4 linked regions of the Homo sapiens genome follow. The protein of the gene in region 3 interacts with the protein of the main gene of each other region in a biochemical or structural test. Each region holds a gene or a part of one and is shown on either strand. Other genes may lie near its edges. The genes, in order: USP24, ETS1, RUNX2 and PPM1D.

The links.
Region 1: of the proteins of RUNX2 (region 3) and USP24, one has a biochemical effect on the other in vitro, tested with the Homo sapiens proteins (one study listed by BioGRID).
Region 2: the proteins of RUNX2 (region 3) and ETS1 form a complex in vitro, tested with the Homo sapiens proteins (one study listed by BioGRID).
Region 4: of the proteins of RUNX2 (region 3) and PPM1D, one has a biochemical effect on the other in vitro, tested with the Homo sapiens proteins (one study listed by IntAct).

What each region holds. Positions count from the first base shown.
Region 1 is NC_000001.11:55,065,859-55,072,364, reverse strand, and holds the end of USP24 (ubiquitin carboxyl-terminal hydrolase 24), read left to right. Parts: coding exon 1-48; intron 49-440; coding exon 441-551; exon of another isoform or gene 552-806; intron 807-906; exon of another isoform or gene 907-967; intron 968-3,257; coding exon 3,258-3,320; 3' UTR 3,321-6,006; downstream 6,007-6,506. UniProt on the Homo sapiens protein: Ubiquitin-specific protease that regulates cell survival in various contexts through modulating the protein stability of some of its substrates including DDB2, MCL1 or TP53.
Region 2 is NC_000011.10:128,478,252-128,487,656, forward strand, and holds part of ETS1 (protein C-ets-1), read right to left. Parts: intron 7,896-9,405; coding exon 7,818-7,895; intron 6,821-7,817; coding exon 6,572-6,820; intron 2,201-6,571; coding exon 1,940-2,200; intron 1-1,939. UniProt on the Homo sapiens protein: Transcription factor. Directly controls the expression of cytokine and chemokine genes in a wide variety of different cellular contexts. May control the differentiation, survival and proliferation of lymphoid cells.
Region 3 is NC_000006.12:45,548,330-45,553,987, forward strand, and holds the end of RUNX2 (runt-related transcription factor 2), read left to right. Parts: 3' UTR 1-2,753; downstream 2,754-5,658. UniProt on the Homo sapiens protein: Transcription factor involved in osteoblastic differentiation and skeletal morphogenesis. Essential for the maturation of osteoblasts and both intramembranous and endochondral ossification.
Region 4 is NC_000017.11:60,650,815-60,660,219, forward strand, and holds part of PPM1D (protein phosphatase 1D), read left to right. Parts: intron 1-5,784; coding exon 5,785-6,027; intron 6,028-6,117; exon of another isoform or gene 6,118-6,228; intron 6,229-8,825; exon of another isoform or gene 8,826-9,114; intron 9,115-9,405. UniProt on the Homo sapiens protein: Involved in the negative regulation of p53 expression. Required for the relief of p53-dependent checkpoint mediated cell cycle arrest.

The sequences.
Region 1 (6,506 bases), on a different chromosome or scaffold from region 3:
AATGAAACATCAACTGGAAAAACCTTTCAGCGAACCATTTCAGCTCAGGTGAGAGTTGTCTCTTGTTTTTGCGTGGTCTAAATCACTTATGGAGGATTTTCAGTGTGTTTCTCAGAAACTGCAACCTCTGAGAAGAGAGGTATGAGTTGAAGATGAGAACAAGCAGAAGAAACAATTGGATTTCTATGAAAAGAAAACAGATTGGTGTACACTTACACAAATTTGTGCAGATTATTTGTCTAGAAGGAAAGTCATACAGGTTGGGCAGTCTGGTCACAAAAAGGGACAGGGGTTGAGGGGGTTCTGGTGACTGTGATGAAGGCCTCACTCTCAGGCCTCCGGTCCCACTGAAGGTCAGATGAAAGGTAGTCTTCCCTGGCGGTTGCTGCTGCCACTGAATGGGCCCTAACTTTGTCGTCTTGTGTTTGAATCTTCTGCAGGACACGTTAGCGTATGCCACAGCTTTGTTGAATGAAAAAGAGCAATCAGGAAGCAGTAATGGGTCGGAGAGTAGTCCTGCCAATGAGAACGGAGACAGGCATCTACAGCAGGTATAACGGTCAGCATGTCCTTGTGTGCAAAGGGCAGCCTTGCTCTTAAGCTTTCCAAAAAGAATTTCCACAGCTGAGGGAAAACAAGATGCTTCCTCTGGAATGTGAGTCCAAAGAGTTACCAGCGCTGCCCTCTAGTGATCTCAGCTCAGCATATGCACTAACCGTGTGTTTACAGGGCTGAGTAGTGCTGCAGTGTGAAGTGAATGGAAGGCCTCGAGGTGTTTGTGGCTGGCCACCCTGATCAGCCTGCAGGTAGTCCCGATGAAGCCAGGGCACAGGGGGATTCGTTCCAGCTTGTTCACTTTATTCTGCCTTGCCAGGTTACTGAAAGTCCCTCGTTTGCTCTCACCAGCCTTCCTGGAAATGTGGACTCTTGAAAGAAAAGCTCCCGTGCTCTTGAAGTATACCTGCTTGCCAGGGGAGTCCAAGAAAATTTTGACATGTATTTTTAAAAAAAGAAAAAAAAACAGCTTTAATACCAATCATTATAGTAGAAAAAGAAAATAAATATGTATTGAACACCCACTGTGTGCAAACACTGAACTAAGTGTCAGTTAATCATTACGTCTTTCCAATAGTCTGTAACTTTCCTTAACAGCAGTCTCCTCTGTGGTCCCTTCACAGTACTTGGTACAGAATAGGCCCCATTAAATGAATGTTACTGATGTAGTAGGTGTCATTTTTTTTTAAGTGTTATCTTTCGGATCCTCATAAGCACTATGTGAGGCAGCTGTCACCCTGATTTTACAGAAAGGTAACTGCAGCCCAGCACAGTGATGTGACTTAGCCCAAGGTCACTCCACACATTACCTCATCACCTACTTCATTTGCAGAGAAAATAAAAGCTGTCACAGGAGAGCTCCTGCGGCCACTAATTCCCAAGCATCTGCACTGTTCTTGTCTCCTCTCCTGTGACAGTGGGAAGTTTGCCTCTGTCCACCCAAAGCCCCTAGCGCTCATCCCCGCCCACCTTGGCAGAGCTTTGCGTTCTAATGTGTATGTAACTCTTCAATATCCAGAACGCTCCACCCTGCCAGACCCTTCCCAGCGACGTCTCAGCACACTGGTTTCTCTTCTGCCCTGTCAAAGCCTCTCTTCTGCCCTGTCAAAGCCTCTCTTCTCCCTGTTGCCCCTGCCTTCTTTTCTCTTCTTTGCAGCCAAACTTCGACTAATTCTCTAAACTTAACTTTCCCCATTTTCTTATCTCTCACTCGCTCTTCAGCCTCTTCCCTGCTAACTCCCTCTTCTCTCCAACTCAGCAGTTGGGGTGACAGGTGGCCTGCAGCTTTCAGGCCTCATCTTAGCCGACTGCTCGGCAGCATCTAGCGCTCCTGGCGCTCTTCCCGTTTGAAACACTATTCCAGGGCTTTCCTGACACTTCTCTCTCGTAGTTTTCCTCAAACCCTTCTGGCTGTTCCTTCTCTGTCTCCTTCCTAGTACTGCCTCTTCTGGACCACCAGTAAAGGTTTGTGGAGTCTCTAACCTGTATCCTCCTGCCCTCACTCCATATTCTCTCCGCACCCACCTTGGATTTCTGAACATGAACATCCAGCTCTCTTGTTCTTGACGTTCTCCACTTGGCATACCTTAAAGACCTCAGACTCGATGTGCCCAGCCCCTCCTCCCTGCGCCCACCAAAGCTGGCCCTCCGTCAGTGTTCCTTATCTCACACACAGCACCCCCATGTCATCCCGGACAGCTCCCTTTGAAAGGGTGCTCGTCCCTCTCCTCCACCTGTCATCAGCCCCTCTCTGCCTACATCTGTAAGGATCCCCTCACCTCCACCCCTGCTTCTCTCTGGTTCATGCACTAAAACCTTTCAAAGGCTTTGTATGAGGAGAAAAGCCAGAATCCTCAACACAGTCCTGCTTGATCTAGCACCTGCGCACCTCCCCACCCCCATTTTCTGATTTTTTTTTTTTTTTTTTTTTTTTTTTTGAGATGGAGTGTTGCTCTGTCACCCAGGCTGGAGTGCAGTGGTGCAATCTCACCTCACTGCTACCTCCTTCTCCCAGGTTCCAGCGATTCTCCTTGCCTCAGCCTCCCAAGTAGCTGGGATTACAGGCATAAGCGACTGTGCCTGGCCCATTTTCTGAATTTTATTTATCAAATGTACTCTCTTCCTTCCACCTCAGGGCCCCCCTACTCACCCCCAACTCTCACTCAGCTTAGGTTGTCACTTTAGAGAGACTGTCCTTGCTCCTCCCCACCCCAGCTCCAACTAGATCAGCCCCATGGCACACGGTGAGTATTCAGAACGATTCGCCAAGTGTGTAAGCCAAAGGCCACACAGATGGTAACAGAGGTAGCCTTCAGACCCAGGAGTGACCCAGAGCCCATATTTGGCAGGTGCAGGGCAGGGAGGCTCACACAGTGCCCAACGTGAAGCGGGCACAATGGCCATCAATGCCTCTCCCAGCTTTATCACTGCTCTGCGTTCTCACATGGGTGCAGAGTAGCATTGTGACTTTAGACAAGTCGCTGGGTTGTTTCACTGACTAAATGAGATCATAGAAATGTACATGTTTTACATAATCATGAATTGTCAAATATTAGATGTAATAGTTATCACATTTTATTACCCTTTGATAAACATTGCATTAAGTTGCCAGATGAAGACATGTTTAAATTGCAGAACACAAGTCAGCATAGAAAACCTTTTCTCTAACCGTATGAACTTTAACTTCCTTTTCTTTTCTGCAGGGTTCAGAATCTCCCATGATGATTGGTGAGTTGAGAAGTGACCTTGATGATGTTGATCCCTAGAGGAACATGCCCAGCCTGAGAGGAGTCAAGACACAATACTGGATGCTCAGCACCTTCTTGGAATCAGAATCTCGAACCCTTTGGAAGAGCCTGGAGATTGGACTGGGAAAGCTGCTGTGACTTGGGCGGATCGTGTATTTCTCAAGGAAAGCATTTTTAAGCCACTAGAAGGTTTGGGAGCTGTTTGGCAGTGGGAGAACTCCGGCATGTGGATCAGCTGTCCCGGGAGCGTGGTCTATATGTGGATTCACATTTCTGTGGAGATTTTCGGAAATAGAGCCAGTGGCAGACTTTTTTGTTACACGAACATACAAGAGTGAGCATAAAGCTGTTGCTTTCTCTACGATGCTACAAAAGAAATTCCTTTGGTTTTTATATTTTAAGAAAAAGCAAGCTGCTTTTAGATATGTGGGGGCAAATTTTTAATCTTGCAGTAATATTAAACAGGAATATCCAATTTAAAATGATGTAAAGATGTAATAAAATTCCTTTTCATTGTAAAATAGTAATTAAGTCAATTTACACAGACCTTTGTATTTAATATGTCTCCCTATTTGTATAGAATTTCAGATGGGTCTAGATGAGAACCCTATGCATAAGCTTGGATCTTGATGAAAGGTTACCAGGATCAGGATCAAAAATTGGGAAATACTAAGCTCTTGAAGATATTTTTCTGATATAATTAGATTGAAAAGAGCAATTTTGAAAATGCTGTGTTCTCCAGAAGTACAGGGTGCATTATTTGACATCAATTACTTAAAGAAGTTATGAGTTGTTCCCCAAACAGATTTTAAAAACAGCAAAATAAAAGCACTTTAAGATATAATTTTACTGAGTTTAACTTCACAGAATTATCTTTTTAATGCTTGGAGACATATTGAATAAACTGTAGTCTTAAATCATGTGATCTGCAATCGTTTGCTTTTGCTTAAAACATAATTACTGAAACCCTTGGTATTGGTTGTATATGAAGTTAACTATTTGAGTTGGTACACACTGCTTGTGAGTTTCATAGTTATTGTAATGCAGAGAAGGAATTTGAGAATTTGTTTCTCCTCAACATGACTAATTAACACTGAAAAGTCAGTCAAGGTTTAAGATTTATTTTCCCAGAAATAAATATAAAGCAATTGAATAACCATCCATTTAGTCGTATTTCCAAAGTATAGCACCATTCACTCATTTATACCAGCTCCCTTTTATGGTGTGGGGGAGAGGTTTACACCCACATATTTCATATATATTTTGTACATTTTGTATTTTGAATTGCTCACATTTTCGGCCCTGTTTTGCCTTTAGTTACAGGTCCTGCCTTATTTTCATCTCACCATGCACAGAACTAGGGAGCCTTAGGAAGTGCCAGGTTTTCACTGTCAGATTTGCCAAGTCACAGAGGCGCAGCCAGCCCTGAAGTGCCTGTCTGGCTGCTGTGGCATTGTGTGGGCATGTGGCCAGGCAGATGGCATCTCATTACTGTGCTCTCGCCATGGCCCAGTCTTTTCATTCTCTGGCAGTGAGGGTTTCTGTGCTGTCAGACTTCATTGTTATTCTGTGACTTGCTGGAGGTTGGCAGTGGCCTTTGTCAAACACACTGAGAAGATGGAAGGGCCAGCACTTAAGAGCAGAACTGTACCCTTAGAGAAACGGACAGAGGCGAGTGGCAAACTTCAGACGGTTCCAATGGTCTTGCAGTTTGAAATGTGATGTTCTACCATTGGTTTTGAGTACGTGAATACTTCCTGTCCTACTGTTTCCCCTACCCTATTCTCACCTTCTCTCCGCCCACATCCTCACCAAGAGATTGTGTGGGACATGACCTTGAAATGCTGGCGATGATCCACACTGGGATATCATCGCTGGCGACTGCACTCTCAGGAGCCCAAAATCAGGAGTGAAATTGCCACTTCTAGTCCCCTTATTTCCTATGGAAACAACGCCTTCCGCACCCCTAGCACCTGCCGTCCTCACTGTAAAGCTTCATCAGGATCGTCCACCGTGTATATTATACGCTTCAGATCATGTTGCTTATATTGTTGCTGCAATGACCATCGTTTTCACTTTGCTGGTAACCACTTGATTGCTGACAGCTACAGTCAATGAACCTGCTGATGACTTTTTTTAATGTAGTACAACAGTGACAGTTATGACAGGCTTACCTTGGAAGAGTTGTCATTTTTACTGCCAATTTTTTGGATGAAGATGTTTTTATAAACCTTTCAAAATGGTCTGCAAACAGAGCAGGAATTGCACAATTAACTCAATAATGCTGTGTGTTCTCAAGAAGCTCCCTTAGTGAGGCCGATCTTAAGATGGCCGATTCTGCCCGTTGAAGGCATCCTGGGAAAGAAAACAAGCATCCCAGCGGGCATCTCACCACGACTTCTCCTGGAGTCCTCACACGGTCACTGACAACTACAGTCAGTTTTAGGAACTAGAGTGCCGTATCATCAGACTTACCCTGTCCTGCCCCACCTTCCCTGCTAACATCGAGGTGTGTGCAGTTACCTTCTGAGCTTGGAACAAGCAGACTGGAATTTTCCTCTGCTACCTCTTGTGTATAAAATCTTGTTTATAAAATTTCAAAAGGAAGTAGATACACTAGGGAAGAACCTTAATTCTAAATTTGGTTCATGTGTGGCAAAGTTCTTAGCTTCTAAGAGTATAAAATAAATTTTTCAAAAACAGAGTTGGAGTCTTGCCGCCATTCTTCATATATCAGAACACAGCCGTAGTGGGCGGGGGAACACGAGCCTGTGCCTGGTGCTAAATGCTGTTGATTCCTCTTAGTACTTTACACTAATAAAGGGGACTGTGGGTCCTCTGAGCCTGTTGCTGTTCTTTTCTCTGGAGGGGCTGACCATTTCAGGATTCATCTGCAAAGCTTAGAGGAGGATGCTGAACTTAGGTTGATGGTCTCCATTCATCTCCACCAAAGCTTTTGGCTCTCCCAAGTGGTCCCCAGCATAGATCGTGTCGCTGGTCACACTGGGCTTCTTGCTAGATCCCACAGGTCTCAGTCTCATTCCTAGTGGCCAGCGTTGCTCACATGGGTCCCCTTCCCTATTTGCTAGTCCAGATTTTCGCCTTCCTGCAAGCCACACCCCTTCCTCCCCGATCCCTGGTGACCACCTGCTAACCCTCTGCAAGAACCAAGTTGTTCCAACATCACAGAGCTGTCAGGGTGTG
Region 2 (9,405 bases), on a different chromosome or scaffold from region 3:
GAGAAAAGAAGGAAAGGAGGGAGGAAGGGAGGAAGGAGGGAGGGAGAGAGGGAGGGAAGGAGGGAAGGAAAGAAGGAAGGAAGGAAGGAGGAAGGAAGGAGGAAGGAAGGAGGAAGGAAGGGAGGGAGGGAGGAAGGGAGGGAGGGAGGAAGGGAGGGAGGGGAAGGAAAGAAGGAAAGGAGGTAGGGAGGGAGAGAGGGAGGGAGGAAGGAAGGAAGGAAGGAAGGAAGGAAGGGCAGAAGAGAGGGTGGGCAGGCAACTATCAATCTATCCAAACATAACTCAGACCTAGAGCATAGTTTTCTCTGCACCACAAAAACAGAAGCAAGCACTGCCAATTAGAGATAATGTCTACCTCCCAAGGCCACAAAGTCATTTTAGAGCTACCTCTGCCTTTCCTTTCTCTTCCCAATTAAGCAGCACATCTCCCTTCCTTTATCACTATATTCAACTGCAGTCTAGTTCTTTAACCCCTAACAGGTATAACTGCATGAGCTGGCACTCTTGTACTTCCTGAGAGTGACTTAATACACTTTTCCTCATCCCAGACGTTTTTAATGGAAATGGATATACTTCCTAATAATCTCCTTTCAAAGATGGGAAAGGACTCCCTTGAAAAGTACTAAGTTCCTACATGCTAGCCATGTTCAAGCAAAGACCACCAGGGTATTGTAGAAAGAATAAAGTAAGGACCTTTAAGTTCCATTCCTGGCCTTGACCTTGTTGCTACTCCAACATGTAGACATAATTCCTGAGCACTACTCATGCAATGAACTGCACTAGGAGCTACATGGAATGCAATATAAGAGAGATACTCCTGATCTTTGAAGGAGGAGTAAGTTTTCAAGCATTTGAGTTGTTCTCAAAGGTCACTGGTTTTCTTCATAAAAGACCTAAGGCTTCCCTGAATGCAAAAATAAGGATTCAGCATACTCTAAGGATCAGAGAGACACCTCAATAGAAACACAGATCTTGCTGTTTGTCATCATCCACACAAAGGGTCCCTACATGAAAACATATCCAGGGTGGAGAGAATTATAAGAGAATAAAGGCCTAGACCACATCTGAGTAATCAAAGCTACTTTAAAATAAGCTCTACTCACAACACACTTTCTAATTTTTAGAAAACACTACAATCTTACAGAGAGATCTGATGATTAACACATTAATGCTCCTTGGCTATTTCTCAGATATACTCTCCACATGTTTTTCTGGTTAAGTAGCATGATATGCTACAACCCATTTGAAGAAAGCATTGTTTTGCTCTACTACCAGAGTCTCAATCAAAGTTCAAGCTCTCAACCTACATCTTCCTTTCTCTATGGCCTTTCTTCACCCATCACTATCATAACTATAGCTTTCGCTCCTGGAAGAAAACTGATAATAAAGCCGAGTAAGAGAAGGGGCATTCTCTATAGGCCAGGATGGATCTGGACAGGGCGTAGTGCCACTGAGGATACTGTTCCCACATTTGAACAGCTGGCCTAAGGAGAACCGTGCTGCAGAAGAGTCCAGTGCGGAGGCCATTCAGTTGTGCCTTTGAGAGATGCTGCTGCTGATTTTGTATTTAGAAAGACCTCCCAAGAGCAGACCAGGAAAAATCCCCTGATGCCAGGCCACTAGATAGAGTTTCCAGGAACACCAGATCATTATAGTTCCCTTCCCCCAGACATGGAAAAACACCCAAAATGTAAGTTTCCTACCATTCTTGGAAATGATCCCTTTGAAGAGAATGATACTATTTGCTTCCAAAAATCAATGGCTATTCACAAGCAGAGTGGCTGGAGAGAGACTAAAGAATTCTTAGAGAGACTTCTCCCCCGTGCCCTGCAAAAGGGAGTCTCTCGTCGTCTCTGGTCAGAGGTGCAGAGTGCCTTCCAGGACCCCACCCACAGAAACGTGCAGATGGAGTTGGCCTAAGCAGCGGGAGGGCGCCTACCTGTGTAGCCAGCTAGGGCAGCAGCAGGAATGACAGGCTTGTCCTTATTGAGGTCAGCACGGTCCCGCACATAGTCCTTGAAGGTGCCCTTGGGCTTGTGGTTGGGCAGGGCAGCCGGATAGTCCTCTGAGTCGAAGCTGTCATAGGAGGGAACACGCTGCAGGCTGTTGAAAGATGACTGGCTGCTCCAGGACTGGGTGAGGCGATCACAACTATCGTAGCTCTCTATGCTTTCAAAAGAGTCCTGGCCCCCGAGTTTACCTGGAGGTAAAGGAGGAGGTAGGAAGAGGACAGGGGGAGGAGGGAGTGGGAAAAAAAAAAAACTGTAAAAACCCTCTTATGGAGGACAGATTGCTAATCAGATCTGCAGGAAGGACGGAAGAAGGGAGAGGCGAGTGGGAACAGAAGCTTCAGGGGTCATGGGTTTACTCTGAGGAAAGGGGCTGCACTAGGCCACCATCCGAGGGTCCACGGCCACTCTGCTGCCTGGTTTGAGAACTCCAAGTACAGAGATTCAGAGTCAAACGTTGCTCACATCTGTCGGAGTAGCGTTTGGGTCCTCAAGAGTTCTAAAGCCAGAAATCTAGAAGCTGAGGATCACACATGTTATGATATGATTTCTGGCTGATGTCGTAGGCCCAATGAATAAATGAAGAAATCAGAGCAATGTCAGGCTGAATTCCCCACTCCAGCTCAAGCCAATGAGATGACTTCAAAAGGCCCAGTTTGGAAAACATTTTGGTCATAAGAAAAAAGAATCCCATTAGACTAAGAGCAGATTAGCCTGTTTTGACCTTGGAACTAAGTGCTATTTTTTAGCATTTTTCCCAAATACTATTTTAATATGAAATACATGTACTGACCCTATGCCTTTTCAAATAGAGTAAGATGGTGTAAGATGCTTTTCCCAAGAGATTTTTTAAAATCACACACACTATCACTCTTCTAAACAGAAAACCATATTCTTTATCCTCTCCAAGTAAAATTATGTACTTGAAATTTAAACTTCATTGGAAAAGTGTAGGCAATATTTAAAAGGTTTATTAAAGAGTTAAGGTCCACAGCAGTGTCAGAAATCCTTTACTGTGTGAGTTGCTTAAGGCATTCTTAACTGACCACAAGATCATGCAAGTTCATTAATTTCCCAAACCAGGTTATAAACAGCTGCTATGATTGCACAATAGCTCCTGGAGAAATTTCCATTGGCAAAAATGCCACTAAAAAGGAGGCTAGCAAAAAAAAAAAAAAAATAGTTTTGGAGGAAAACAAATGAATCTAAGAGCGAAAAAGGCTCGCAGGAATGGTTTTTATATGCAACTTTCAGATACTTTTCAAGTAACCTAAGTTAAATCATAGGAGACTAGATGGTCACCTCAATTCAGCACAGGCCAAAAGGCAAAGGGATGTGACAAATGTTTACGGAGAAATATCCGTAAGTCAACTCTTAATTGTTCAGGGGTGGTTGATCTATAAATTTCAAATCCCAGAATAAGGCTGACTTATACAACTTCATATTAGTGTGCCTCCAGTGTATTTTTCCCTCCATGACAGCGGAGATTGGTTAAAACAATAAACATCAAACATGAACAGATGCCCAAACCTAAATTAAATATATAGGAAAATATGTTGCTCCCAACATTGTTTAAAGATCCGGATAAAATGTATTCGGTTGAGTGTGTACTTTTTGTAAAATCCACTGCTGTGGGTTTTCTCTACATCCTGACCCCCTCTGGAACTGCTTTAAACAGAAAGGTGGTGTCATCCGTTTCATCTCATTCCTTCCTCCACTCATCCATTCAGAGGAGGGTAATCTCTGGAAAGCAAACTGAAGAGCTTCATGGAGTTATCAGCCCTGCCCACCCAGTCCACTAGCAAAAGGGCACCTCTTCATTCTTACTAAAAATGAATATATATTTCTTTATAATTCTTAAAAATTCTTTCCCATTTACCCACCAGAAAAGTCATCTTTTTCACCTTTTTAGAGATCATTTAATTTTCTTTCAAGAAATTCACACTAAATGATTTAAGAAAACAGCCTACAACCAGAATGTCAAAGCCTTGTTTTAGCAGAACAGGAAATTCTGTGGCGTCTCATAAAAAGGTATTTGTTCATACCAGCTACTGATCTTCATGGTCACTTATTTTCTCTTTGAGACAAACATACCAAAAGCCTAAGAAGGAGAATTTATATTTTCATCAACACCGCACCAAGTCGATAGTATTTATGCTAAAGTCTCTCTGAAATGATTCCATTTCTATCAGCCAATTTTATACTTGGAGAAAAAGGACATCAGAATTTTCACAAGCAAGATAGTAGAGTTTCCAAGGAGTCCCACTAAGCAAGGGGACTAAACCAAGCCAGAACCAGTCTCTGGCAACCCCCCAAACATGAGGCAAATGCAACCCTGTTGAGAGTTGTGGTTTACAGCGGTAGGCAGCTTTCATTTTAGCTCGATTTCACAACCCTGGTGCTGGGAACCTTCATTTACGGGTATTTTCTCCAAAAATGGGTAGAATCCAACTGGATTAGATACTCAGTTATGCTGCTGCGCTCATGTAGGGAAACCTGTGTTCTCTAAACTGTCCACTAGCCAGCCTTTCTGAGAAGGGCCTCGGCGAGCTCCTTCCAAAGCTATCTGAGTCCACCAAACAGACCTCAGAGCACTCAAAACAGAAGATGCGGCAGCACCCAGCCACCCACTGAGTAGACTCGTACAAAGACAGTCCTTAGGGCCCAAATAAGTGGGGCATAGAAGCACTCTGTACGCTGTAATGCAGCCCGTGAATACTGTACTATGGTTAGTATAAATAACAATCAGCTAACAGTAATGCTTTCGGTCTAGACCAATCACAGCATCTCAGAATCAATTGGCCCTTTGCATAGGCCCTGTTTGCAGCACTTCTAACATGCAGAAAACAGCCCTGCACAAAATGGTCTTCCCCTCAAGTTTCTGTGGCCTGAACTTGGAGGGAGGGAAGAAGAGTGGAGCCAGAAAGAAATACCTCATGTCTCCTTGTAAGGGTCACTTTTGGTCCACAGTCATTAGTTTGGGGTTGGAGGGGTGGTAGGGACCAAAACCAAGAATGAAGAAAAGGAGAGGGAAAGAGACAATTACACAAATGCAAAGCCAGATGCAATTTCAAAACAATGTGACAGGAGATCGACCCAAAGTTACAACATGGCTGAGCCCAAACCCACAGGCTTGGCCTCACTGTGTAGATGTACAGAAAGTCCCACAAGGAAGAAAGTCGTTTTAATGCTTTGACTCGCCTGATAAAAAAGAAACACATGTACACACACTTGTGTGTATGTATTTAAATAGACATGCACCCAAAAATAAAAAAGAGCCAGAAAGGGGAAGGCCGACTGGTCCCACCCATCCCCTTCGGTCTGAAACACTAACACCCTGGGGCCTTAAGAAGGAAGATTAGGGGTTCTGATTTTGCAGGGACTTTCCCTCTGCAGGGCTTGTTGGTGATCCCTAGGCCTGCTAGGAGGAAGTGTGAGTCTGAATACTCGAAGAAGACGACAATGGGCATGACCCATGATTCTTCAAAGTAAAGGTACCATTGGGCTCTCCTCCAAGAGCCTCACAATAGGCACCGCATATGGTCAGTCATTGAGCAGAAATCACTAATAGGCCAGCCCCAGCCTGACATCTGACCCAAGCCCCGCTTGATCAGCTTTCTCCTGTTCCTCTTCCCATTTATAATTCTTTCCCATTTACCCACCAGAAAAGTCAGGTTTTTCACCTTTTTAGAAATCATCTAGCTCTTGCTAAATAGACAAACCCTTTCTTACAATAGATTGCATTTTTCTCAGAAACAAAACAATCTGGACACTTTACTAGGTAGGCTGTACCTCTGAGTGTTTATGTCCTGTTCCTAAAAATTGGGTGCATTTTACCTTTTTTGCTTTATGTCACCCAGCTCTATTTTTAAACACTTTCTTCCCTGACAGTGAATATTTTATCACTATTATAATAGTCACGTTAACAAAACTACCTTCTTTTGGAAACCCCTGGCCACCTCCGTCCCTGGTCCTCTAGCTAAATACACACTTCACCACACTGCTGATGACTGGTTCCAAATAAACCGTTGGTTAACCATCTTGTATCTTCCCAAACCGAAAAAGTCACAGGAGGCTAAAGATCCCAGGCTGGCCAGCAGAGGTCATTCCAGGTACCCAGCTAGGATCTACAGTCAGACCCAGGAGTCCTCTGGGAGGAGCACCAGGACACATGCTAAGCTTAAGGGTTTTCCAGGGTGGCCACTTGAACCATTTTTACTTGATTATGTCCTCCTCAAGGAAAATAGAGCATACCTTTCAAAATGACCAAATTCAACTAGAGTTATTGAGTAAAACATTTTGCCCAAGTAAGATATTTAATTTCTTAGATTGCCTGATTTTGATTTCACTGTGGACCCCATGGCCTTTGTCATAATAATGGACTTGGCTAAAACACCACGATGGAAAGTTCTTAGTATCTGGACACTCTAAGATGGGAAGGCTGAAACTGAGGAATCTACAGGTCTAATAAATAAGAAAAAAAAAATGGAACCTGAAAAAAACTCACAAAGTCAGGTAATTCTTGTAAACCCAAGAGCTTTTAGAGAAGAAATATGACCTACCACGACTGGTCCTCCCCATGCACATGTTGTCTGGGGTGACGACTTCTTGTTTGATAGCAAAGTAGTCATTCTGCAAGGTGTCTGTCTGGAGAGGGTCTCGGAGAATGACCGAGGGGTAGTCATTCTCATACTTGAGGGAGAGGAGCTCTTCCGAGCTGATGGGATGGAGCGTCTGATAGGACTCTGTGATGAAGCTGGGCTCTGAGAACTCCGATGGTGGAACACACTGGGCATGCTCAATACCATAGCCTGGAAACAAAGGGTTTGCAAGTAAAGAGAGGAGAGATTTGTACCTAAAATAAGCAGTTTTCACCATCTACAGGGCCCTATGATGTGGGACAAGCTCCTTAGAGAATAAGGGAAAATACTTTAAATCAGAAAAGCTTGCATTTTTAACCTTGTCCACTACTAAACAGCTTTAGCCCTTGACAAGGTAATTGATTTCCTGACTTCATATCCTCATCTCTAAAATGGGGGTGATTGCGATTTTTCCCGGAGCACTGTGATGAAGATGAAATGAGGATAGAGGTCAAATGCCCACCAACATTCCCCACACAATAAGCTCTTGACACAGAGTAGTTAATATCATTGTGTCACTGGAATAAAAATTGTAATAACGTAAAAAGATAAAACGAAAAAAATAAAACCTGTTTCATATTCCCTGTAAAAGCACAGCCATCAGATAAGATGGTCCTATATCTCAGAGCTTACATTAGTGCAACAGGCCTACATTCATTGTTTCCCTCAGGCCATCTCTTCAGTATGGTTGGGTATCTTACACGAAAAAGGAGAAGACTGTATTTCCTATAATAGAATTTGAAGCTGCATAGCACACTCTTAAAGAAGGATTTTGGAGGAAATGCTGTTATCTCCACTAGTAAAAAGGAAAGAACAAAGACCAAGATCAAATCCCTAACCCAACCCTCTTTTGGCCATCGTAGTGCACAGTATCAAATAGGAACAAAAGTTTAGGGGTCTAGTTGCAGTCTCTCTGCATGACTTTCAGGTGAAGACATCAGAGAAGGATCCTAGTGTGTAGGAACTTGGTAGGTTAATGAAACATATATATAGGTTGAAACTTTGTGCTTTGTGGAAAATAATAAAATAAAGTAACAAAGAAGAGTCTACATCTAAGAAGATATTATTTTTGATAGAATTACCATGAAGGAGCCTGAGATTCACTGAGATAGGGGTCTTTTCCTAGTTTGCTATTATCATGAGAGAAGAGGGGTAGAAATGAACTTACTAATGAAGTAATCCGAGGTATAGCGGGATTCTGGATAGGCTGGGTTGACTCCATTAACTTGATATGGTTTCACATCCTCTGTAATGAACAGATAGGGAAGGAACAAAGAGGTCAATATTCAAGTCATGCTTGGCCTAAAAGGATCTTGGATGCAAAGACCACAATGATCTCAACCCCTTTTCTAAGAAATCTGCATACTCATTAACTGGGTTGGTATCTGAGTCTGTCCTGACTGTGGCCTTGTCTAAAGATGAGATCAAAAAAATATGACTAAGGTTATTATTTCAGTAGCTGCAAAATGGGATTTAGTATCTTGGAAAGAGAATCCATGAGTAATCTCTAAGGGCTCAGAAGGCATTCAGCATTCATTCTCAATGCATTCGTGCTGCGTGTATGTCGACCACACTATAGCCAAAGGCTTGAGTACATCCCAGGTTAGCAGGATCAATCCCCAACCCCCAAACTAATCAATTTCAAAATTTCTCAAAAATATATTGCAGTCTTTAGGCCATAGATTTTACGTTCTCCATTTCCTCTAACAGATGTCTGGTTTTTGTTTTGTATTTTTCCCATTGCCCTCAGGTTTCAAGTTCAGGCCCAGACAAGAAGCAGGACACTGGTAAGGTGACTCCATTTGGTGAAATGCGACTGCGCTTGTGTCAAGGGAGAGAAGAGCAACCCAGTCAAGCTCCTGCCCAGATGCCAACTCCCCTAGGAAAAGGAGAGGAAGGGAGACGAAGTGCACCTGCGGACAGAAAGCTCTGAACGACCCTGCAGTAAGCCTGGGATCCTCTAATTACCCTGGAACAAATGCCATGGCTCCGATTCTTGTATGGAGTAGTCTGATTATATTTCACCATAAGAATCTGACATAGAGTATGGGTTTGGGTTTTTCCTCAGGTATTTGATAGCTTGTTAGGAGCAAAGTCTGATGGGAAAACAAGTTTATGCCTGCACAGAAAAACAGTTCCCAGTTGAGATAAAATGATTAAACTTTGCTTTAGCAGTTTATCAGATTGAAACATCCCCGTACCTTTCACCTTCCACCCCACCCCAAACAGCTATGTTCTTTTGCTGCTGTGTTGCTTTAATTACAGAACAAAAGCTGTAGCCTCAGCACAAACATCATGCTCATCTCTTCAAGTAACTGAACCTGAAGAGGGAGAATTCTTTCTGCCTCTCTCAACAGAATATTGGGTGGGAAGATATGACTTTTGCTCTCAAACATACTGACTTATATCCTAATTCTCTTAAATTTTCTTACATTATTCCTTTACCCTAAGTGAGGCCAAACCAGTCTTAGCGGCCAGAAGGCCCCTGTGAATCCACATTATTATACAAAAAGCACAGGATGGGATGTTAAATTTTAAGTTAAATAAAAATATATTGAGGGCAGGCGCGGTGGCTCACGCCTGTAATCCCAGTGTTTTGGGAGGCCAAGGTGGGCAGATCACGAGGTCAAGGGATCAAGACCATCCTGGCCAACACGGTGAAGCCCTGACTCTACTAAAAATACAAAAATTAGCTAGGCATGGTGGCATGCGCCTGTAGTCCCAGCTACTCAGGAGGGTGAGGCAGGAGAATCGCT
Region 3 (5,658 bases):
GAAATATTGCTAAGCAATTTCAGTTCATCCAGGCACAATGTGATTTTAAAAAATACTTCCATCTCCAAATATTTTAGATATAGATTGTTTTTGTGATGTATGAAGGAAATGTTATGTTTAGTTCTTTCAGATCTTTGAATGCCTCTAACACAGCTTTGCCTTCTAAAGCGGTAATTAGGGATTTAAAAAACAACCTTTAGCCCTTTATCAGCATGAAATGCTGGAGTGATGTGGTTTTCTAATTTCTTTGGGGTAATTATGACTCTTGTCATATTAAAAAGACAAGCACAAGTAAATCATTGAACTACAGAAAAATGTTCTGTGGTTTCATAGTTAAGCAAAACTCTAAATCGCCAGGCTTCATAGCAAAGACATAGTCAGCTAAAAGCCGCACATGTGGATAGAGGGTTCAATTATGAGACACCTAGTACAGGAGAGCAAAATTGCACCAGAGATTCTTAACCAACCAGCCTTACCAAACAACACAACAGGGGAACCCCAATCTGCCTTACCCAAGGCCCCACTGGCAGCTTTCCACAGAATTTGCATTTAGAGGAGCAGAATGACATCACTGTCCTTTGGGAGTAGGTCCTCTGAAAAGGCAGCAGGTTCCAGCAGGTAGCTGAGCTGAGAGGACATATGGCCCACGGGGACCTACAGACAGCCTTTGACATTTGTATTTCTTACAATGGAGGGCCAAGGAGGGCAAGGGGCTGTGGAGTTTGGTGTCTACTAGTGTGTATGAATTTGAGCTAGAGTCCTTCTGTGGCATGCACTTTGACCACTCCTGGCAGTCACATGGCAGATTTCCAAGTGCAAATCCTTAATCCAAACAAGGATCATCTAATGACACCACCAGGCCAATCCCTGCTCTCCTCCCCGAAAAGTCAGGGTCCCTTCATTGGAATCCTCCACCCACCCAAGCAGAATTTAGCAGAGATTTGCCTTCAAACCCTAACGGCCCCCTTGTTCTCTGGTCCTTCTCAAACCCACCTTTGTAGGCCACCCAGCATTGCAGGACAGCGTGTGGGGCAGCTGGACCTGTGCTTCCTGCCTGGGAGTCTCCCTTGGAATTCATCCTGACTCCTTCTAATAAAAATGGATGGGAAAGCAAAACACTTTGCCTTCTAAAGGCCGTATACCAAGTATGCTTAGATAAATAAGCCACTTTTCTATTACTTAAGTAAGAAGGAAGTAGTAATTGATACTATTTATTGTTTGTGTGTGGTAGCTTGAAGCACACCACTGTCCATTTATTTGTAAGTGTAAAATATGTGTGTTTGTTTCAGCAGCACTTAAAAAAGCCAGTGTCTGGTTACACATTTCAATTTTAATTAATTGACATAAAAATGCTACCGCCAGTGCCAGCTGCATCCTATTTAATTAAAAAGGTACTATATTTGTACATTATTTTTTAATGTTAAAAGGGCTTTTTTAAGTTTACAGTACACATACCGAGTGACTTTAGGGATGCTTTTGTGTTGAAATGTTACTATAGTGGCTGCAGGCAGCAACCCAGAAACACTTTAGAAGCTTTTTTTCCTTGGGAAAAATTCAAGCACTTCTTCCCTCCACCCTCACTCCAACCACCCCAATGGGGGTAATTCACATTTCTTAGAACAAATTCTGCCCTTTTTTGGTCTAGGGATTAAAATTTTGTTTTTCTTTCTTTCTTTTTTTTTTTTTTTCACTGAACCCTTAATTTGCACTGGGTCATGTGTTTGATTTGTGATTTCAAGACCAAAGCAAAGTCTTACTACTACTGTGGAACCATGTACTAGTTCCTGGGAATTAAAATAGCGTGGTTCTCTTTGTAGCACAAACATTGCTGGAATTTGCAGTCTTTTCAATGCAGCCACATTTTTATCCATTTCAGTTGTCTCACAAATTTTAACCCATATCAGAGTTCCAGAACAGGTACCACAGCTTTGGTTTTAGATTAGTGGAATAACATTCAGCCCAGAACTGAGAAACTCAACAGATTAACTATCGTTTGCTCTTTAGACGGTCTCACTGCCTCTCACTTGCCAGAGCCCTTTCAAAATGAGCAGAGAAGTCCACACCATTAGGGACCATCTGTGATAAATTCAGAAGGGAGGAGATGTGTGTACAGCTTTAAGGATTCCCTCAATTCCGAGGAAAGGGACTGGCCCAGAATCCAGGTTAATACATGGAAACACGAAGCATTAGCAAAAGTAATAATTATACCTATGGTATTTGAAAGAACAATAATAAAAGACACTTCTTCCAAACCTTGAATTTGTTGTTTTTAGAAAACGAATGCATTTAAAAATATTTTCTATGTGAGAATTTTTTAGATGTGTGTTTACTTCATGTTTACAAATAACTGTTTGCTTTTTAATGCAGTACTTTGAAATATATCAGCCAAAACCATAACTTACAATAATTTCTTAGGTATTCTGAATAAAATTCCATTTCTTTTGGATATGCTTTACCATTCTTAGGTTTCTGTGGAACAAAAATATTTGTAGCATTTTGTGTAAATACAAGCTTTCATTTTTATTTTTTCCAATTGCTATTGCCCAAGAATTGCTTTCCATGCACATATTGTAAAAATTCCGCTTTGTGCCACAGGTCATGATTGTGGATGAGTTTACTCTTAACTTCAAAGGGACTATTTGTATTGTATGTTGCAACTGTAAATTGAATTATTTGGCATTTTTCTCATGATTGTAATATTAATTTGAAGTTTGAATTTAATTTTCAATAAAATGGCTTTTTTGGTTTTGTTATGTGTGTACCTTGGGTCTTTTCTTGTTCACGGTTTCTCCCTAGTCTGATGTCTACTCCTGCTTACACCTGGGCACTGTTTGGTCTTAGGACTTGCCAGGGCTAGTTAAGAGAAGAGATGCTATATTACTGGGGAGAAGAAAAAAAATCTTGGTAAACGGTGTCTTCTTGTTTTGTCCTGTTCCTAGCGAGGGGTGGGCAAAGAATCTAGCAGTGAACTCACTTCCTTACTAGCTTGTGTCTGAAGGAAGGAGTGCTCACCTCATCCTTGAGTAAGGCCATTTATTCCAACTGGGGGACCTATCAGGCGTATAGATGCAGTCTCGATGGCTTCATGATTCTAATCTCTGAGAACATGAACAGGGCCCCGCAAGTGAACCTCTGGCTATCAACAGAAGATCTCAGGCAGCCCAGATATAGGCTAGTCTGTTTTCCTTTCCACATCTCTTTTGGGTTCTTAAAAATAAAGTCAACCAAAGCCCAAGGATGAGTAAAAACGGACCTTGGCCTGGAGGGCTATAGCCTCAGAAGAATTCTCCTAGTGAACATAACTATAGTTTGGAGATTTTTTTTTCCCGTGGCCATTGTTTATTTTTGGTAAGTCCCCCCCCTTGTGATAAGGTTGAAGACCTGGGGTAGAAAGGTTGCTTTCTCTGTGTCCTATGCTTTCTGAATGCTTGGGCTCACCACAATTCTAAAATAGGGACCCAGGAAAACATGGTGCAGAGAAGGTCAGCCAGTGGCCAAGCTGACCCACATCACAGGGAGAGTTAGAGACCTTGAAGATCTGCTCATTCTTAACCCTTTGGCACTATTTTCTAAGAAATCTTGGAAATAGTTAAATTCCAAGAATAGGAAATGTCCTGAAAGCACTTGGGTGAGCTTAAGCCAGGGAACTTGTCTGCAACTCTGAGGATGTAGATTTATTTATTTAAAAAAAAATCAAACATCTGTGTGACTTTAAAGGGCATTCACAAGGGAGGTGGTCACAGTGGCTTGCTTTCTGTCTCCAGTTTTCTCTATCAGGATGGTCTAGGGCAAATCCCTTTATTCCTCTGTGTCTCAGTTTCTTGGTTTATGAAAAGGCATTGGGCTAGATCTTGGCACTATTGACATTTCAGACTGGGTAATTCTTTTTGTGTGTGTGTGTCAGGGATGCTCTCCTGTGTATTGTAGGATGTTTAGCAGCATTCCTAGCCTCTACCCACTAAAAGTTAGTAGCACCTCCCTAGTTAGGACAATCAAAAATGTCTCCAGATGTTGCCAAATGGTCCCTGGGTGGCAAGATCACCACCGATTGAGAACCACTTAGCTAGAGGCTTTATTGACAGAACTGATATGAGAATACATTGCTTATTAAATCAGAGTAGCCAGGCAGAGGCTGAGGGACTTCCCAGTGATGGCTACACCTCAACCTTTTCCATCCCTTCACTTGATTTGGATGTATCATGAGGGCTGCTGTTGGCTTTTTCGTCTGCACCTCTTCACTCCTCTCTGCAACATGGGCTGTGCAGCCAGTGAACAGCCCAGCTGTGGGGCTTTGTTAAGCCTGGATTGGTTGGCCATATTTATCATGGCCTGTTTCTCACTGAAACGGCAGGCGGAAGAAGAAAGCAATTTCTGCAGTGTTTTTGACCCCTGGTGTCCCCTATCCCCCAAATATTTAATCATCAGGCATTTCTGCAAGAGTGGGTGTTTCCTGTTAACTCAATCCCAGCCGGGACTGGCCCAATAAACACCTCAGGTCTCTGTCATAGAGTTTATTTGGCTGGGAAATGGGTATTGCCATGTAAACAGGAAGGCCCCTGAAGTTATTATCTACAGACGCAGTGGAAGAGCCGCATGTTTATATTTATGGGACTTGAAAACAGTATGAAAGGCAAGGGAGGATGTCAGGGAAGCCCTCATTGGCAGTCAGTGAGAGCAGGTCCTACAGCTCTTTATTAGTTAATTTTTCATTCTCTCTGGAAATGGTTGGTAAACAATAATGACCTAGCCAAGAGCCACTGCAGAAATGGAGGTACTGGCTTGCCTGTACCTAGATTACCAGGTTAACAATAAGAAATGCTATCAGTTGGCCTCTCTGTCCTAACTATTCGAAAATTATTTTAGAGATCAGTCCTAGGAAGCAACAATTTGGAGGTATCTAAAAAGGATGCTTATGAAACAGTGTCACCATCTCTAAGTTCTTCTGGGGAAGTGGAGGACAACTCAACTGACTGCTCCAGTTGTAGTGAGTGTGGGCCAGCTCACCTGTGAAAATCCCAAGCAAATTCTCATGCATTCACTCCTTAGTCAGTTTCTGTGAGGCTGGAAAGGACATCTTCATGCAAGAGTTCATAACACCTGAGCTGTCCAGGTATTGGTACTGGGAATCAGGCTTACACCCTAGGCCTATGCACCCCAGGTATACTCCAAATTGCTCCCAACCCTTCTCGGCTCTTCCATTGTCTCTCTCCTCTGGCCCGGAAAAGGTGCTAAGAAAGGCCAGGTAGGAACCAGTATGTGGAGAGCTGATACTCTTGATTTAAACTCTGGGTTCTGAGCAAAGGCAAGGGAGTCTTTCCTTCCTCACCACCATTGCTGTGGACCCTGAGAAGCCTCTTTGTGTCTTCTTAGGGGCTTCTCAGCGGTAACTACTCAATCAGGAGGCCTTGGAAAGGAAATTTTAAAAAGTTATGAATCAAAACTTACCAAGGAAAAGGATCCAGTGAAGACGCAAAGGGTAATACACCAGGGATGTGTGTGTGTGGGCGTGTGTGTGGTGTATGTGTGTGTGTGTGTGGGGTGTATGTATGTGTGTGTATATGTGTCTGTGGTGCATGTGTGTATGTGTATTTATGTGTGTGGTGCATGTGTGTATGTGTGTGGTGTGTATGTGCACGTATATGTATATGTGTGTGTATA
Region 4 (9,405 bases), on a different chromosome or scaffold from region 3:
GTGGCATGCTCCTATAGTCCCAGCTACTCAGGAGGCTGTGGGAGGATTGCTTAACCCCAGGAGTTCAAGGCTGTAGGGCTCTATGATTGTACTTGTTAATAGCCACTGCACTCCAGCCTGGACAACATAGTGAGACCCTCATCTCTTTAAAAATAAAAACTTGGGAGGGAAGCGTGGAAATACTAATTTAACAGTTAACAAGAGTTGCGTAAATTGTGGCAATATATGCACTTAGAGAGACTCTGTGGTTTAAGAGCACACAATATTAGGGGGACTCAAGTCAGCAGAATTCTAGTGAGCTGAGGGAAAAATATACAGGTAAGATAGTGGAAAATGGTTTATATAATTGTTTTCATAGAGCATTGATGGGAAGGGAAACAGGCACACTGAAAAAGTGAGAGGTAAGGGCTCAGTCAGCTGGTGTTTGGAGAGTGGAACCACATGCCGTAGGGAATGTGATAGATTCATGAATTAGAGATTAATGCTGCCTTTAATCAATTCTGAGGTGCATATTTTCTTTTAATATCTCTGAAATTGGAATACTTTTTACAAATGGTATATCACAGTTCAATTAACAGTGTTTTTGGTTTTTTTTTTTTTTTGAGATGTAATCTCGCTGTGTTGCCAGGCTGGAGTGCAGTGGCGCGATCTCAGCTCACTGCAACCTCTGCCTCCCAGGTTCAAGCGATTCCCCTGCCTCAGCCTCCCGAGTAGCTGGGACTACAGGCGCGCGCCACCATGCCTGGCTAATTTTTTTTATTTTAGTAGAGACGGGGTTTCACCACATTGGCCAGGATGATCTCCATCTCCTGACCTCATGATCCACCCACCTCGGCCTCCCAAAGTGCTGGGATTACAGGTGTGAACCACCATGCCAAGCCACCACGCCCAGCCGACAGTGTTTTTTATTTCGTTTGTGGCACATAAAATGATGCATCCATAACACAAGGCTCATGGTATTCTACATGAAGAAAACAATCTAAGTGATCCAGTCAGAGTTACAAAAAAGAATATCATAGTAAAACCCCTCAAAGTAGGAGGTTGAAAATAATAGAGCAGAAATTAATTATTTAGGGAGATTCACAAAACCCAGAAGGGCAGTCTTTTAAGAAGACACATAAGGCATGATTGATTGTTTCTAGTTCAAGAGAAAAGCACAAAAAAGTTTGAGTGGACATAACTACACTTAAAAATAGAGATTTTTAAAACACACTTTAAAAAATTCGAAGTATACTATACATATGACATTTACTATTTGTACTATTTGAAATTGTACAATTCAATAGTAAAAAATCCATTTATATTCTTTTTTTCCACCCTTCATCTCTCTCTCCCTACTACCCTTCCTGGCTTCTTGTAACCACAATTCTACTCTCTCTCTTTGTGAGATCTACTCTTTTAGCTGCCACATATGAGTGAGATCATGTCTTTCTGTGCTTGGATTATTTCATTTAGCATAATGTCCTCCAGTTCCATCCCTGTTGCTGCAAATGACAAGATTTCATTCTTTTCTATGGCCGAATACTATTTCATTGTGTATGTGTATATACACCACATTTTCTTTATCCATTCATGTATTAAATGGAATTGACGTAGGATGATTCCATATTTGGACTGTTGTGAATAGTGCTGCAATAAACATGGGAGTGCAGATATACCTTCAGTGTATTGATTTTCTTTCTGTTGGATATATGTATAGTAGTGGAATTGTTGGATCATATGGTAGTTTACTTCTGTTTTTTTTTTTTTTTTTTTTTTTTTGAGGAACCTTCATACTGTTCTTCGTAGTGGCTGCTCTAATTTACATTCCCACTAACACTGAGGGTTCCCCTTTCTGCACATCCTCACCAGCATCTGTAGTTGCCTATCTTTTTGATGCAAGTGGTTTTAACTGGAGTGAGATGATACCTCATTGTGGTTTTGATTTGCATTTCTCTGATGATTAGTGATGTTGAGCATTTTTTCATATATCTGTTAATCATTTGTATGTCTTTTGAGAAATGTGTATTTTAGATCTTTTGCCCATTTTAAAATTGGATTATTTGGGGCTTGTTTTGTTTTGTTGCTACTGATTTGAGCTCCTTACATGTTGTTAATTCCTTGTCAGATGGATAGTTTGCAGATGTTTTATCCCATTCTGTGGGTTCTCTCTTCACTTTGTTGATTGTTTCCTTTGCATTTTAGCTTGTATTTTCATTTGTCTATTTTTGCTTTGGTTGCCAGTGCTTTTGAGGTCTCATGCAAAAATTATTTGCCCAGAACAGTGTCCTGGAGCGTTTCTCCAATGTTGTTTTCTTCTAGTAGTTTCATAGTTTGTGAGATCAAAGTAGATCTCACAGAGGGAATAGAATTGTGGTTACCAATTCTACTAATTGAGATCTTAGATTTAAGTCATTAATCCATTTTGATTTGATTTTTGTGTGTGATGAGAGATAGGGGTATAGTTTCATTCTTCAGCATATAGTTATCCAGTTTTCCCCCTACCATTTATTGTTGCTCTTGGCACCTTTGTTGAAGATGAGCTGGCTGCAAATTGCGTGGATTTATACATAGGTTTTCTGTTCTGTTCCATTGGTCTATGTGTCTGTTTTTGTAGCAGTACCATGCTATTTTGGTTACTGTAGCCCTCTAGTATAGTTTTGAAGTCAGGTAGTGTGATGCCTCCAGCTTTGTTCTTTTGGCTTAGAATTGCTTTGGCTATTCAGGATATTTTGTGGTTTCATATGAATTCTGAGCTTAAAGAAAAAATTATGTGAAGAATGTCATTTCAATTTTGATAGGGATTGAATCTTTAAATTGCTTTGGGTAGTATTGTCATGTTAACAATATTAATCCATCCAATCCATAAGCATGGACTACCTTTGTATCTTTTTGTGTCCTCTTCAATTTCTTTCATCAGTATTTTCTAGTTTTCCTTTATAGATCTTTCACATCTTTGGTTAAATTGATTACTAGGCATTTTATAATTTGTGTACCTATTGGAAATAGGATTGCTTTCTTGATTTCTTTTTCAGATTGTTTGCTGTTGGTATATGTAAATGCTGCTGATTTTTGTATGTTCATCTTGTATCCTGCAGTTTCACTGAATTTATCAGCTCTAACAGTTTTTTGGTGGCGTCTTTAGGTTTTTGTAGGTATGAGATCATGTTACCTGCAAACAAGGCTCATTTGACTTATTCGTTTCCAGTTTGGTTACCCTTTATTTCTTTCTCTTGCCTAATTGCTCTGGCCGGGACTTCCAGTATTGTATTGAATAACAGTAAGTGAGAGTGGGGCATCCTTGTCTGTTTCAGTCCTTAGAGGAAAGACCTTCAATTTTTTTCCCCATTCAGTATTGATGTTGGCTGTGAGTTTGTCATTTTGAGGTATATTTCTACTATACTTATTTTTGTTGGGTTTTTATCATAAAGTGATGTTCAATTTTACGAAATGCTTTTTCAGTGTCTATTGAAATAATATGCTTTTTTTTTTTGAGAGAGAGAGTCTCACTCTGTCACCCAGGCTGGGAGCACAGTGGTGCGATCCCGGCTCACTGCAGCCTCCACCTCCTGGGCTGAACTGATTCTCCCACCTCAGCCTCCCAAGCAGCTGAGGTGGGAGGATCACTTGAGCCCAGGAGGTGGAGACTGCAGTAAGCCGAGGTCACACCACTGCATTCCAGCCTGGGTGACAGAGTGAGACCCTGTCTCAAAAAACAACAAACAAAATTTTCCACTCATTTTCATTAGTCATTTATTTCTATGGGTACTTTTAATACATGCAGGCAGCCGGGCACGGCGGTTCACACCTGTAATTCCAGAACTTTGGGAGGCCGAGGCAGGCAGATCACCTAAGATTAGGAGTTCAAGACCAGCCTGGCCAACGTGGTGAAACCCCGTCTCTACTAAAAATACAAAAAAAAAATTTAGCTGGGCATGGTGGCAGGTGCCTGTAATCCCAGCTACTTGGGAGGCTGAGGCAGGAGAATCACTTGAACCTGGGAGGCGGAAGTTGCAGTGAGCCGAGGTCTTGCCATTGCACTCCAGCCTGGGCGACAAGAGCAAAACTCCATCTCAAAAAAAAAAAAAAGAAAGAAAAGAAAAGAAAGAAAAAAATACATGTAGGCTTATTTCCTGGAGTACATCATTTTCACTTTTGTTCTGTGAAACCTAGCAGATTTTAAATTCATATATGACACTGGAAGTTTTATTCCAAGCCACATTTATTTGCATAAAATGAGATCCTTTTGGTTTTGTTTTCTTTACTCGTTCAATTGGTATATATTTGTTCTTTATACTATAAGCAGTTATTGTATTACTTTTTCCTCATATGAGTGACATTGACTGTTTATATATATATATGAGCTGTTTATATTTCCTTTTCTCTGGATTTTGTTTATATTCTTTGACAATTTTTATGTTGAGTCATTTTCTTCGATTTGCAGAATCTCTTATGTTAGAAGGAATTTGACCCTTTGCAATGATTTTTTTTTGTACCATGCCTGATTGTCTTGTTTGTGAATTATGTTTTCTTAAATAACTTGATGTTTACTTCTTGTTGTTGTTGTTGTTTTGAGACGGAGTCTCGCTCTGTCGCCCAGGCGGGAGTGCAGTGGCGTGATCTCGGCTCACTGTAACCTCCGCCTCCCAGGTTCAAGCAATTCTCCTGTCTCAGCCTCCCAAGTAGCTGGGATTACAGGCACACACCACCATGCCTGACTAATTTTTGTATTTTTAGCAGAGATGGGGTTTCGCCATGTTGGTCAGGCTGGCCTTGAATTCCTGACCTTGCAGTCCACCTGCCTCCACCTCCCAAAGTACTGGGATTAAAGGCGTGAGCCACCACACCTGGCTACTTTCTTTTTAAGTAACTTCTTTATAACTTTTTCTTTTCTTTTTTTCTTTTTCTTTCTTTCTTTTTTTTTTTTAAATGGAGTCTTGCTCTGTTGCCTAGGCTGGAATGTGGTGGCCTGATCTTGGCTCACTGCAACCTCCGCCTCCTGGGTTCAAGCGATTCTCCTGCCTCAGCCTCCTGAGTAGCTGGGACTACAGGCATGTGCCGTCGCGCCCGGCTAATTTTTTGTTTTTTTAGTAGAGATAGGGTTTCACCATGTTAGCGAGGATGGTCTCGATCTCCTGACCTCATGATCCACCCGCCTCCTCCTCCCAAAGTGCTGGGATTACAGGCATGAGCCATTGCGTCTGGACAACTTTTTCTAAATAAAGTTACAGTGAAGGCTGAGTTTCTTGATAAAAATAAAAATAGTGAAATTTAATGACAGGATAAAACCTTGTTTTATTAGTATTTTTTGAATTTAGAAAAGTATTATTTTAACATGGCTAAGGAGACTGGGGATAATGTTTGAAAATTTGGGAGCTTTGGCTGGGCGCAGTGGCTCACACCTGTAATCCCAGCACTTTGGGAGGCAGAGGCGTGTGGATCGAGGTCAGGAGATCAAGACCATCCTGGCTAACATGGTGAAATCCCGTCTCTACTAAAAATACAAAAAATTAGCCGGCCATGGTGGCGGGCGCCTGTAGTCCTAGCTACTCGGGAGGCTGAGGCAGAAGAATGGCATGAACCCGGGAGGCAGAGCTTGCAGTGACCCGAGATTGCATCTCTGCACTTCAGCCTGGGTGACAGAGGAAGACTCTGTCTCAAAAAAAAAAAAAGAGAAAAGAAAAAAAAAAATTGGGAGCTTTGTTTGGGCCACAGCGAACACCAAATATTTAATTTGATATAGATACAGATGTAGTGGCAGCTAAATCTGAGTTACTTTCCTTCTCCTTGTTCTTTTGAATACAGGGTGAGCATGGACAATCTTGTGCCAAAATGCTTGTGAATCGAGCATTGGGCCGCTGGAGGCAGCGTATGCTCCGAGCAGATAACACTAGTGCCATAGTAATCTGCATCTCTCCAGAAGTGGACAATCAGGGAAACTTTACCAATGAAGATGAGTTATACCTGAACCTGACTGACAGCCCTTCCTATAATAGTCAAGAAACCTGTGTGATGACTCCTTCCCCATGTTCTACACCACCAGTCAAGGTATATAGTTCCATAGTTTTTAAGTTATGTTTTAATAGACACCAGTTCTTTGGTTAGCGTCACCTGGAAACAATTTTTAAATTCTTACAGGATTTTGGATTTGAACTCGATTCAAGAAAGTGATGTAACTTATTATCAGAGAGCCATCTTTACATCAATACTAATCTGAATGCCAGCCATGTGTACAGCACTAATAAAAAGGTGATTGTGGGCCCTTAAGAATATTATTGTTTGCCATCTAATGCTATGAACATTATTTTTAAAGCATTTAGAAGTTTGTGAAGCACTTAAATATATTTTATTTGAATCTCGTAGCCCAGAAGTAGAGCTAATGTTATTATTTCATTTTATCAGTAATAAGCCTGAGAGATTAAACTGTCTAAACAAGGTCATAGAGAATCAAAATTGAGCTGGACCTGAGGATAGCAGACGTTACAACTGGTTGTCTGTTAACTCGTATAAGAAACTTTATTCCTATTTCTTATCCATGTTAATATTGATTGAGTTTAAGATATGCTTTGAAATAAGCAAATTTTAAGTAGATATCATACTTTTTTGATTTACTAAGAACTCAAATACTTGGTTGTGTTTTCATCCTAATTTTTCCCACCAAAAATTAGCAGTATTGATTGATAATTGCTTTAATACATAGCATGGCTAACCTGGCTTTCTGAGAATGTGTTTTCAGTAGACTGACCATTAAAATGGGAAATGTAGGGAAATCTAATGTCACCTATTCAGGAAGTTTTTTAAAGTGTCAAAGGCCTTTAATTTTGGGCGTCGTAATCCTATAGTCAATACTTGGAAATGGATTATTACTGCTTTGCTTTCTTTCACTTTACATACATATGGCAAAAACCACATATGGCCAGATACAATGGAATGTTTTCATTTCTTTTTCTTTTTTTTGTTTTTGAGACAGAGTTTCACTCTTGTTGCCCAGGCTAGAGTGCAATGGCATTATCTTGGCTCACTGCAACCTCTACCTCCCAGGTTCAGGTGATTCTCCTGCCTCAGCCTCCCAAGTAGCTGGGATTACAGGTGCCCGCCACTACGCCCTGCTAATTTTTTGTATTTTTAGTAGAGATGGGGTTTCACCATGTTGTCCAAGCTGGTCTTGAACTCCTGACCTCAGGTGATCCACCCGCATCGGCCTCCCAAAGTGCTGGTATTATAGGCCTGGCTGAAATGAAGTATTTTCATTCACAAAAGGTTTCTTTTCTTTGAAAACCATGAATGGTAATGCAGGTTGAAACCCTTTAAAGCCTCTTTATTCTCTTTTCAAAGCTGTGAAAGAGCTTATGTTTGTATATTTGCGTATTTCTGAATATTTGTATGTAATTATTACTTTCATGTTCCCTTATAACTGACCTTTAGGCAGTATAGAGAAGGAGGAGACATTAGGGTGGGGAATAGTGTGAGGAACAAAAGGGCATTCTTAATATTGACCTCAAATAAAAATTATTGCAGTCTGCTGACTGGCATTAGTAAACCCATACATAAAATACGTTTAAAAAATTACTTAAGCTGGGCACAGTGGCTCATGCCTGTAATCCCAGCACTTTGGGAGGCTGAGTTGGGCAGATAACCTGAGGTCAGGAGTTTGAGACCAGACTGACCAACATGGAGATACCCCATCTCTACTAAAAATACAAAATTAGCCAGGTGTGGTGATGCATGCCTGTAATCCCAGGTACTTGGGAGGCTGAGGCAGGAGAATCGCTTGAACCCAGGAGGCGGAGGTTGCGGTGAGCCAAGATCGTGCCATTGTGCTCCAGCCTGGGCAACAACAGCAAAACCCCATCTCAAAAAAAAAAAAAAAAAAATTCCTTAAATTCTGGGCTGGGCGTGGTGGCTCACGCCTGTAATCCCAGCACTTTGGGAGGCAGAGGCACATGGATCATGAGGTCAGGAGATCGAGACTATCTTAGCCAACATGGTGAAACCCCATCTCTACTAAAATACAAAAAATTAGCTGGATGTGGTGGCTCGTGCCTGTAATCCCAGCTACTTGGGAGGCAGAGGCGGGAATCGCTTGAACCCGGGAGGTAGAGGTTGCAGTGAGCTGAGATCGCGTTGCAGCACTCCAGCCTGCTGACAGGGCAAGACTCCATCTCAAATAATAATAATAATAATAATTCTGATAATGACCTAATAATACTACTAAAGTAAAGATAAGAAGACGTATGTTTGCCATATGCAGGTATAGTTATTTGTTAACCCATTGGCCCTGCCCAAATATGGGAAAATATTTAGGTTAATTCAGAATAATTAGTATTGTTGGCTCTGATCTAACAACTAACAAAAGACAGATTTCTGCCCAAGAAATTGTTTTTGGTTTGTTTTATTTACCTTAATTGACATAAAGGTGAGTACTCCTGACTATATTTAATTTACATCATTATTAAAGTTGTCTCATGTTTAGTAACATAGAGATAAATTTAATTATAATGTGGTTAATGTTGAACAGTCAGAGACTTAATCACATTTAGACAAGGCATTTGAGACTAGATTTGTCTGTAAACATGTCAGCTTCCATTTGAATTCTCACATAAATTAGTCTTTGTTTTGGGATGGAGATAGTGGAAAAGCCTTTGTTTAAGTAAGATAGATTACTATGACACACATTTCTTTCTCTGTCCTTTGTTTAGGGCAAAACTAAATTTAGCTATGTTTTACAAGCTAAGATCTTTAAGAACGGAATGGGGAAGAGAGCAAAGAGTTTCAGAAAATTAAAACTTAGTTTTAGTTGCATTTTAGGCACAGTTTGTAATTAATTGTTTAATATTGGATTACAGGGTAGATGGGAGGAGAAAGTTGATCTCTGAAGCAGTGAACTTTTTTAAAGTATGTATTTTTAGGGGTAACCTCAATATCACATAACTGTTTTACGAACATGCAGGCCTTAGCAATACAAATTAACCTGGGGTACATCTAAGAAGTCTAAACAGTTGCCTGTGCTAACAGATACAATGTATTCCCACAGAATGCCAATAAAAAGAGAATTCCCTTCAGAAATGTTCAAGAAGAAAGTAGGGGAAGGGAAGCCAGCACACCTGTGGTGTCAGAATAATATTCTGTGCATTTAGGCTGGGTGTGGTGGCTCACGCCTGTAATCCCAGCACTTTGGGAGGCCGAGGCGGGTGGATCACAAGGTCAGGAGTTCGAGGCCAATATGGTGAAACCCTGTTTCTACTAAAAATACAAAAATTAGCTGGGTGTGGTGACATGTGCCTGTAATCCCAGCACTTTGGGAGGCCGAGGCAGGCTGATCACCCGAGGTCAGGAGTTTGAGACCAGCCTGGCCAACATGGTGAAATCCTGTCTTTACTAAGAATACAAAAGTTAGCTGGGTGTGGTGGTGGGTGCCTGTGATCC